2 linked regions of the Homo sapiens genome follow. The protein of the gene in region 1 purifies or fractionates together with the protein of each later gene. This does not show direct contact. Each region holds a gene or a part of one and is shown in the gene's direction. Other genes may lie near its edges.

Region 1 (3,817 bases):
TAAGTGTCCCCTCACACTGTTCTTTTCGCCTCATCCTCTCCCTGGACATGGCAGCATTTCAGCAACTCAAAGAAACGACGAAAGGTTAAGGGAGGCTTCTAGGGAATCTTACAACAAAAAGGCAGTAAACCCTGGATAGTACACCCTGATAAACCCCAGTCATTATGTATCAGCATTTTCCTTGCACAAGTGTATTCTTACAAAAAAAAAAATGAAAGCTTAAGTCTACATTTTATAAATTAATCAGTAAGCAGGAACTGGAGAAATTGTTGAATGAAATCCTTTGTTTGACTAAAATTTAATTCAATATTATCTTCTGAAATCTTGTTAGCACTGAGCTCGTTCTGCTGTCAGCTCTGTACCACAAGAGTGGCAAAAAGGCATTTTTGTGACGGTTGCTGAGCAAAACATCATATACCCCTCTGTTTTCTACACTGTTCGTCTTACAGGTTGAACCCTACAAATAATGGCAAGGGGGTCATGGACCTCACAGAAGTCACTGATCATAAAGATGCATTTTGCCTCTGAGGAATTTTTTGAAAGCATCACAATAACCAAATATAAAGAAGGATAATGGAATTACATTTGTGACATTTGCTCTGATTGGTCGTGTTTAATTTCTTATTCTGATGGGGCTCAACTTTTCCTTCCTATTTAAAACAAAAATGATCATCAAACACTTCTTACTTTCCCTGCTCCAGTTCCAAAGCATTTACTCTAGACTTCCTTTTCTCAGCCTTCCCACAGTGACAAAGCAGCCAATCCGGAGGTTCTGAAATGGACAAATGACCTTGCCAAATTCCGGAGACAACTTAAAGGTGGGTAAAATTCTGGAGCTGTGGCTTCTGTACAACAAGCCAGGTGCAGAATCTCTCACCTCCTCTCCCACTGAGTGCCACTGCTAAGGCATTCCCCGGTCCTTAAAGATGCTTCCCAGCACTCTCAGCTATTCAGAGTGACCACTTCCCCAGGTCTTCACATGGTCTCAGTCACAGGGCAACCCGATCAGCTAAGAGGCGAATTCTGCAGCATTTCTTCATTTCCCTGGATCACTAATAGAAGGATGATGGTTTCAAGTCAGCATCTCTCAACACCTGTTTAATCCAAGTCTCCATTTGCTGTGGTGGTAGAAGCAAACAAGTAGACACAGAGATGAATCTGCAAAGGGTATGGCCTCCATCCCTCAAAGAGATTCCCATCTTTTCAGAGACACAGTCATGTAAACAACTAAATAGAATACAAAGTGAACCTAATTTCAGAATAAGGTGTGTAAGTCATACAGAAAAGGTTGGCCAGTGGCTGGGCATTAGATCACTAAATACCTTTAACCACTGAAGGAGCAAGGATGCCACATTCTGAGAGCATCATACAGGCTGATGTGGCTAAAGCTTTCTCAGCAATTAGTGTTAGGGAAACATTCCATGTAATCAAAGAAAATGTTACCATTCTCTCAGGTTTTACATAATAATTCAGGGATTTCTACTGATACTGTAACTAGATACTCTCTGAAAAAAGAATAAGTTATTGATACTACAGAAAAACAATTTGTGTTGGGCAGACATCAAATCTCATATATCAGGCCGGGCGCAGTGGCTCACGCCTGTAATCCCAGCACTTTGGGAGGCCGAGGCAGGAGGATCATGAGGTCAGGAGATCGAGACCATCCTGGCTAACATGGTGAAACCCCGTCTCTACTAAAAATACCAAAAAAAATTAGCCGGGCGTGGTGGCGGGCACCTGTAGTCCCAGCTACTCAGGAGACTGAGGCAGGAGAATGGCGTGAACCCAGGAGGCGGAGCTTGCAGTGAGCCGAGATCGTGCCACTGCACTCCAACCTGGGCGACAGAGCGAGACTCCATCTCAAAATAAATAAATAAATAAATCTCATATATCTTTACCCCCAAATCTTCTCAACTAGAATCAAAACTAAAGATATCTGAAGAGGACCTAACTCCCAGGATGCGGCAGCGAAGCAACACACTCCCCAAGAGTTTTGGTTCCCAACTTGAGAAAGAAGATGAGAAGAAGCAAGAGCTGGTGGATAAAGCAATAAAGCCCAGTGTTGAAGCCACATTGGAATCTATTCAGAGGAAGCTCCAGGAGAAGCGAGCGGAAAGCAGCCGCCCTGAGGACATTAAGGTGCGATCATTCTGTGAAGTGCTAAGCCCTAAGCCATTGCAGTCAATGTGGTAGAGACACAGGGCATGCCACGTGAATCCCAGTGGGAAGATGATGCCTTGTTAAGCCTTCCAGGCTGTTACGTGTCTAGGGAAGCTGATGAAACAGCTGCAGAGTGCGTTAACTGTGGGTGCTTTGGTTTTTGACTACAGATTGAAAACAAAACTCTATTGTATAGATTACAGAATGAACTTGTTTAGGTTAATAGCTGGTTTTGTGACTCTGAGGTAGAAGGATTAGAGACAAACCTTTGGGACCATGTAACGTATAACCGTCGTCATTGCTTGGGCCATTAAGCTAAGCCCCATGTGCCTCACAGCCCTGCTTACCTCAGTGTTCACCTTACCTTTGCTGCCGTGAGGGAGATCCAGGTGGCTGATGATGATTCTGCTGTGCTGGCCACGTTTCTCCCAAGAGCTCAGGAGTAACCCATTTTTAAATGAACTTTGGATAGAGCTAGGGAGAGCTGTTATATGAGGGTTCTTTTTAGCCTTGCTTTAGTAATTTAAGTAAAGAAGTTGGAATGTTCACACACATTTTCCTCTCTTTCAATTCTCTATCCCTGTGTTTATACAGGATATGACCAAAGACCAGATTGCTAATGAGAAAGTGGCTCTGCAGAAAGCTCTGTTATATTATGAAAGCATTCATGGACGGCCGGTATGTGATGTAGTAAATTTTCTGATTGGGGTCAATTATCTGGCTTTAGAAATGGATTTTCTATGTTCAGTATTTTACAAATGGGGTTCCCTAATGTTTGCTTGCTTTACTTTTAGGATAAAGGAGGTTAGTATATATTTACACCATAACTAAGCTTTCTGAAGGCTTAACCAATAAGAAAGTTCTATCTAGTAGATGTGGAACTTACTTGGGTTCCAATGAAAAATTGGTTTGCAACTAAAATTTAGTCATTAATGTACCGCTTTAAAGGAAGGAATGGTGGAGGGGCCAGGGGTCGGAGGGGCAGAGTATAGGGCATAAAGACCCCTGGAGTTTGGAGACTTCCCTGTCCCTAGGTCTCCCCCAATAAGCTGTCACTGTAGGCTTCCTCATCCATAAAATGAAAGGTGTGAAACTAGAATGATCTGCCTTAGAATTCAATCTCTCTGCAATGCAGTGCAACTAGTGTTTGTAAAGAAGTTCCAGCTGCCGTTCAGAACCAGAAGCGTGAGGAATCCAAAATATGGCTTTGCCTTTTCATAACAACGGGAAGCATTTGAGGTGGCTTGCCGTTCAGCAAGCATTGCTTAAATGTTTGTTGTTAGCTGTGGGGGAAACGGTAGCATGATAGGCTTCTGCTCTCTTCCCTGAAGAACTTTTCATCAGACACCCTTCTTGTCAGTCACTCTTAATAACCTTTTGTTCATAATGTTGTCAGAGACCTAACAAAACAAATTTTTAAAAGCAGGTATAAGGAAGCACGAAGTTTAGGTTCACTGATTATTTTTATATAGCCAAAAAGTATAGATCTCTTTTTCAGTCTTGGCCATGACTATATGATAGTCTTTTCATCTAAAATATGCTCTTTTAAATAAAGAAGGTTCCAGAATAATTCACTAGACTCTAAGGTGTGGGAGGTCAGGGATTCTGGGCTTTGTTCACCTAGTGGTGACCCCAGTCCTCAGTGTCTAGCACAAGA
Region 2 (3,817 bases), on another chromosome or scaffold:
CACACCGCACCACAACCTCAGGATCTCTAAGCTGTAGGCTTCTGGCAGGAGAAGCGTCAGCCCCATGCTGCTCAGAGCCTCCAAGTGCTGCTGTGAGTTGTGTGCAGATGAAGGGTGTTGACAGTAGTTATACAGGTGAAGCTCCTCTTCCCAGAGGCATACATGCTGTGATGGGGACAGGCCAAGTGTCCTGGTGACTGCCTCGAACTCCCAGATAGTTCTGTGGAACGTGCACTTGTGTGCTGGTTTACTACGGAGAGAAAAAGCAAATAGGGTAGGGTATGAACAGTGTTGAATCTGGGTGGAGGGAGGTGGGCACTCATTATGTTAGTCTTGCAGCTTTGTCTGTTTTTGAAAGTTTTAGTAATAAAAATGGGGGGCTGAGTGCAGTGGCTCACGCCTGTAGTCCCAGCACTTTGGGAGGCCAAGGCGGGTGGATCACCTGAGGTCAGAAGCTCGAGAGCAGCCTGGCCAACATGGTGAAACCCCGTCTCTACTAAAAATACAAAAATTAGCCAGGTGCGATGGCGCATGCCTATAGTCCCAGCCACTCAGGAGGCTCAGGTAGGAGAATCGCTTGAACCCAGGAGGCAGAGGTTGTAGTGAGTCGAGATAGCACCACTGCACTCCAGCCTGGGCAACAGAGTGAAACTCCATCTCTTTTTAAAAAACAAAAATGGATGGGCTAGGCGTGGTAGCTCACGCCTGTAATCCCAGCACTTTGGAAGACCAAGGCAGGTGGATCACCTGATCTCAGGAGTTCGAGACCAACCTGACCAACATGGCAAAACCCTGTCTCCACTAAAAATACAAAAAAGCCGGGTGTGGTGGCGTGCGCCTGTAATCCCAGCCCCTCAGGAGGCTGAGGCAGGAGAATCGCTTGAACCCGGGAGGCAGAGGTTGCAGTCAGCCAAGATCACGCCATTGCACTCCAGCCTGGGCAACAAGAGCAAAAATCCATCTCAAAAAAAAAAAAGAAAAGAAAAATGGGGGAACCACCCTCTAGTGGCTTCCCGTGAGTAAGCGCCAGTGCACTCAGGCCCTGTTCCCCTGCCCTCCTACTGTTCATGCCCCCACTGCCCTCTGCAGTGGTCCTCAGCCAGCCCCGTGCTGACAACTCAGGACCTCTCCTCCCTCTGGTCCTTGCTCAGATGTCACCTCCTCCCCATTGAAGCCACCCCACCGCACACGCACCGCCGCTGCCTGTTCTCCTGCCCTGCTGCCCTTTGTATGTGACTTATCGTTTCTAGTAAATTAATAATCATCCATCACCTGTCTCCTCCCCACTAGAATGTAAGCTCCGTGGAGTCAAGGATTTCTGCCTTGCTTTGTTCAGTGCTGAATGCTCAGCAGAACACAGCACGCCCTCTTGACCTGACAGATGGGGGAGGCGGGTGGATAGGTGGAATGGCCTCCTTTGAGTTGTCTCCTCAGCATCTAGCCAGCATCTAGCATAAATGTTTACGGAATAAGTAGAGAAATAGGTGACAATGTTCTTGATGAGTTGATGTACAAGAAGTTGTCTGCCTCTTTGTTGAAGGCTCTTCAGGGTTACAGGTTACAGTCTAGAATATTTTGAATTTGTAGAAATAATCATAATTTTCTGGTCCAAGGTAGTTCATTACCCGACTCACAGGTTTAACAGCAAGGACAGCCACCTGATGTCTCAGGCACAACCTCCAGCAAGCCATCCACTTGTGTCTTTCAGGTGGCAGAGCGAGCTCTCTATTACTGGAATAATGAATACATCATGAGTTTAATCAGTGACAACGCAGCGAAGATTCTGCCCATCATGTTTCCTTCCTTGTACCGCAACTCAAAGACCCATTGGAACAAGTAAGAAAGAACTGGCTGCCATCTTTTTCAGTCATTTTAAAATATGGCACGTTTTACTGCTACTTCAGTAAGAATAAATATCAGAATTTTAAATATCAATTAAAAAACAAGAAGGTCAGTTGCTTTGTGGACTCATAAATTAAGTAGCAGCGTGGGTTGTTTCTGTGGCCGTTGAATTTACCACCTTATACCTTCATTCCTGCCAGTATAGAGGCACATTGGTTTGCAGCCACCTCCCAGTAGCAGCAGTTTCTAGGCCTCTTCCTGAGCGTCCTGCAGAGAAGCTGAAGGTCTCTGCAGAGCCCAGTGGGGCTCAGCCCCGGCGGGGGCACAGTGGCCACTGCATTCTCGGGGTGTCTATTGAGCTCTGCTGACATGCACCCTGGATGAGCCCCTGTGTGAGACCCAAGAACCACCCCACAGTGGTCACTACCTGGAGAAGAAGAGGGAAGCCAGGTGATCTGAACACAGCCCCATAGTCCCAGCAGCCAAAAACATTTCCTCCTACTCCGCTCCTTCATCTTTTGACTTAAAGAGGATGAATAAATCCGTTTACTGAGCAATAGTCTTCTGAGACTTTAAAAGGAAACTGTTGATATGGGTGCCACATTATTTATTTATTTTTCTTTTTTAAAATTTGTATTTTATTTGTTTATTTTTAGACAGGGTCTTGCTATGTCCCCCCGGCTGGAGTGTAGTGTCACGATCATGGCTCACTTCAGCCTCGACCTCCTGGGCTCAAGCAAACCTCCTGCCTCAGGGTCCTGAGTAGCTGGGACTACAGGCACCCACCGCTACGCCTGGCTAATTTTTGTATTTTTTGTAGAGATGGGGTTTTGCCATGTTGCCCAGGCTGGTCTCGAACTCCTGGACTCAAGTATTCCACCTGCCTCAGCCTCCCAAAGTGCTGGGACGACGTGAGCCACTGCGCCCAGGCCATATTATTTATTAATATGGTATCATCTAATATTCCTGCTATTTAAAGAAATACGACTGAGTTTTTCTTTCCCCACCTTCTTTCATCTCTTTCCATTGTATATTGTAATTATAACTCAGAACTTAAAGAAGAGCAGGTTATGCTATCCAGCCCTCCTCCCTTAGTTTATGGGTGAGGAAGGTGAGACTTGGAGGGCATTCGCAGCCCAGTCTGCGGTCCCAAAGCTGGTGAGCGGCACTCTGGCCCGGTGCGGTCTCCTAACTCGCAGTGTCTATTGGGCACCCCTCTGGCTGTGCTGCACAGTCACCCTGCTGCCGGCGGACCAGCCCTCTCCCATGCACCCTCTCTCCTTGTCCGCTCGAGGCTGCAGGTGGCACTGCCTCCTTCCCAGAATTCTGCAGGGCAGCAGCCAGACAGGTGTTAGCCCTGGAGCTCTGAGCCAGACCCCCGAGCGAGCGTCCAGCCAGTCCACTCGCGTCAAGTCTTCTGAGGGTTGCCGCCCAGAAATTCAACAGAGAAGGGCAGGCAGATCAGAGTGAGGATGACTTTGGTTCACATTCCTGCCTTCCTCCTGAGCAGCTGTCTGAACCCGGGGAAGTTAGCTCTCACCAGGTCTTTCTTAGCCACAGTTTCTCTTTGGAAAAACTGAGAAAGTAAAGTGCTTTGCCTTGCAACAATCTTCACTTGGTTGTGAGGATTAAGATAAAGTTAATATGCGTAAAGTACCTGGCTTATGATAGGCACCAAGTAAGCATTTGCTGTCACTTAGTGGTTGTAGGGCCAGCAGCCATGCTGATAGCAGTGGAGGCAGCAGCCAAGACCCTCATGGCAATAGCGTGGTGGTTGTAGTTGTTAATACAGCACATCCACCCTCAACAACCTGTTCTTTGTAGCATTGATTTATTTTATTTATTTATTTATTTTTGAGATGGAGTCTTGCTCTGTCACCCAGACTGGAGTGCAGTGGCACCATCCTGGCTCACTGCAGCCTCCACCTCCCAGGTTCAAGTGATTCTCCCACCTCAGCCTCCCAAGTAGCTGGGA

What was found.
Region 2: the proteins of FAM13A (region 1) and PPP2R5C purify together in Homo sapiens (affinity purification with mass spectrometry; one large-scale study listed by BioGRID and IntAct). This does not show direct contact.

What each region holds. Positions count from the first base shown.
Region 1 is NC_000004.12:88,745,953-88,749,769, reverse strand, and holds part of FAM13A (protein FAM13A), read left to right. Parts: intron 1-736; coding exon 737-818; intron 819-1,918; coding exon 1,919-2,139; intron 2,140-2,754; coding exon 2,755-2,838; intron 2,839-3,817.
Region 2 is NC_000014.9:101,904,694-101,908,510, forward strand, and holds part of PPP2R5C (serine/threonine-protein phosphatase 2A 56 kDa regulatory subunit gamma isoform), read left to right. Parts: intron 1-1,708; coding exon 1,709-1,836; intron 1,837-3,817.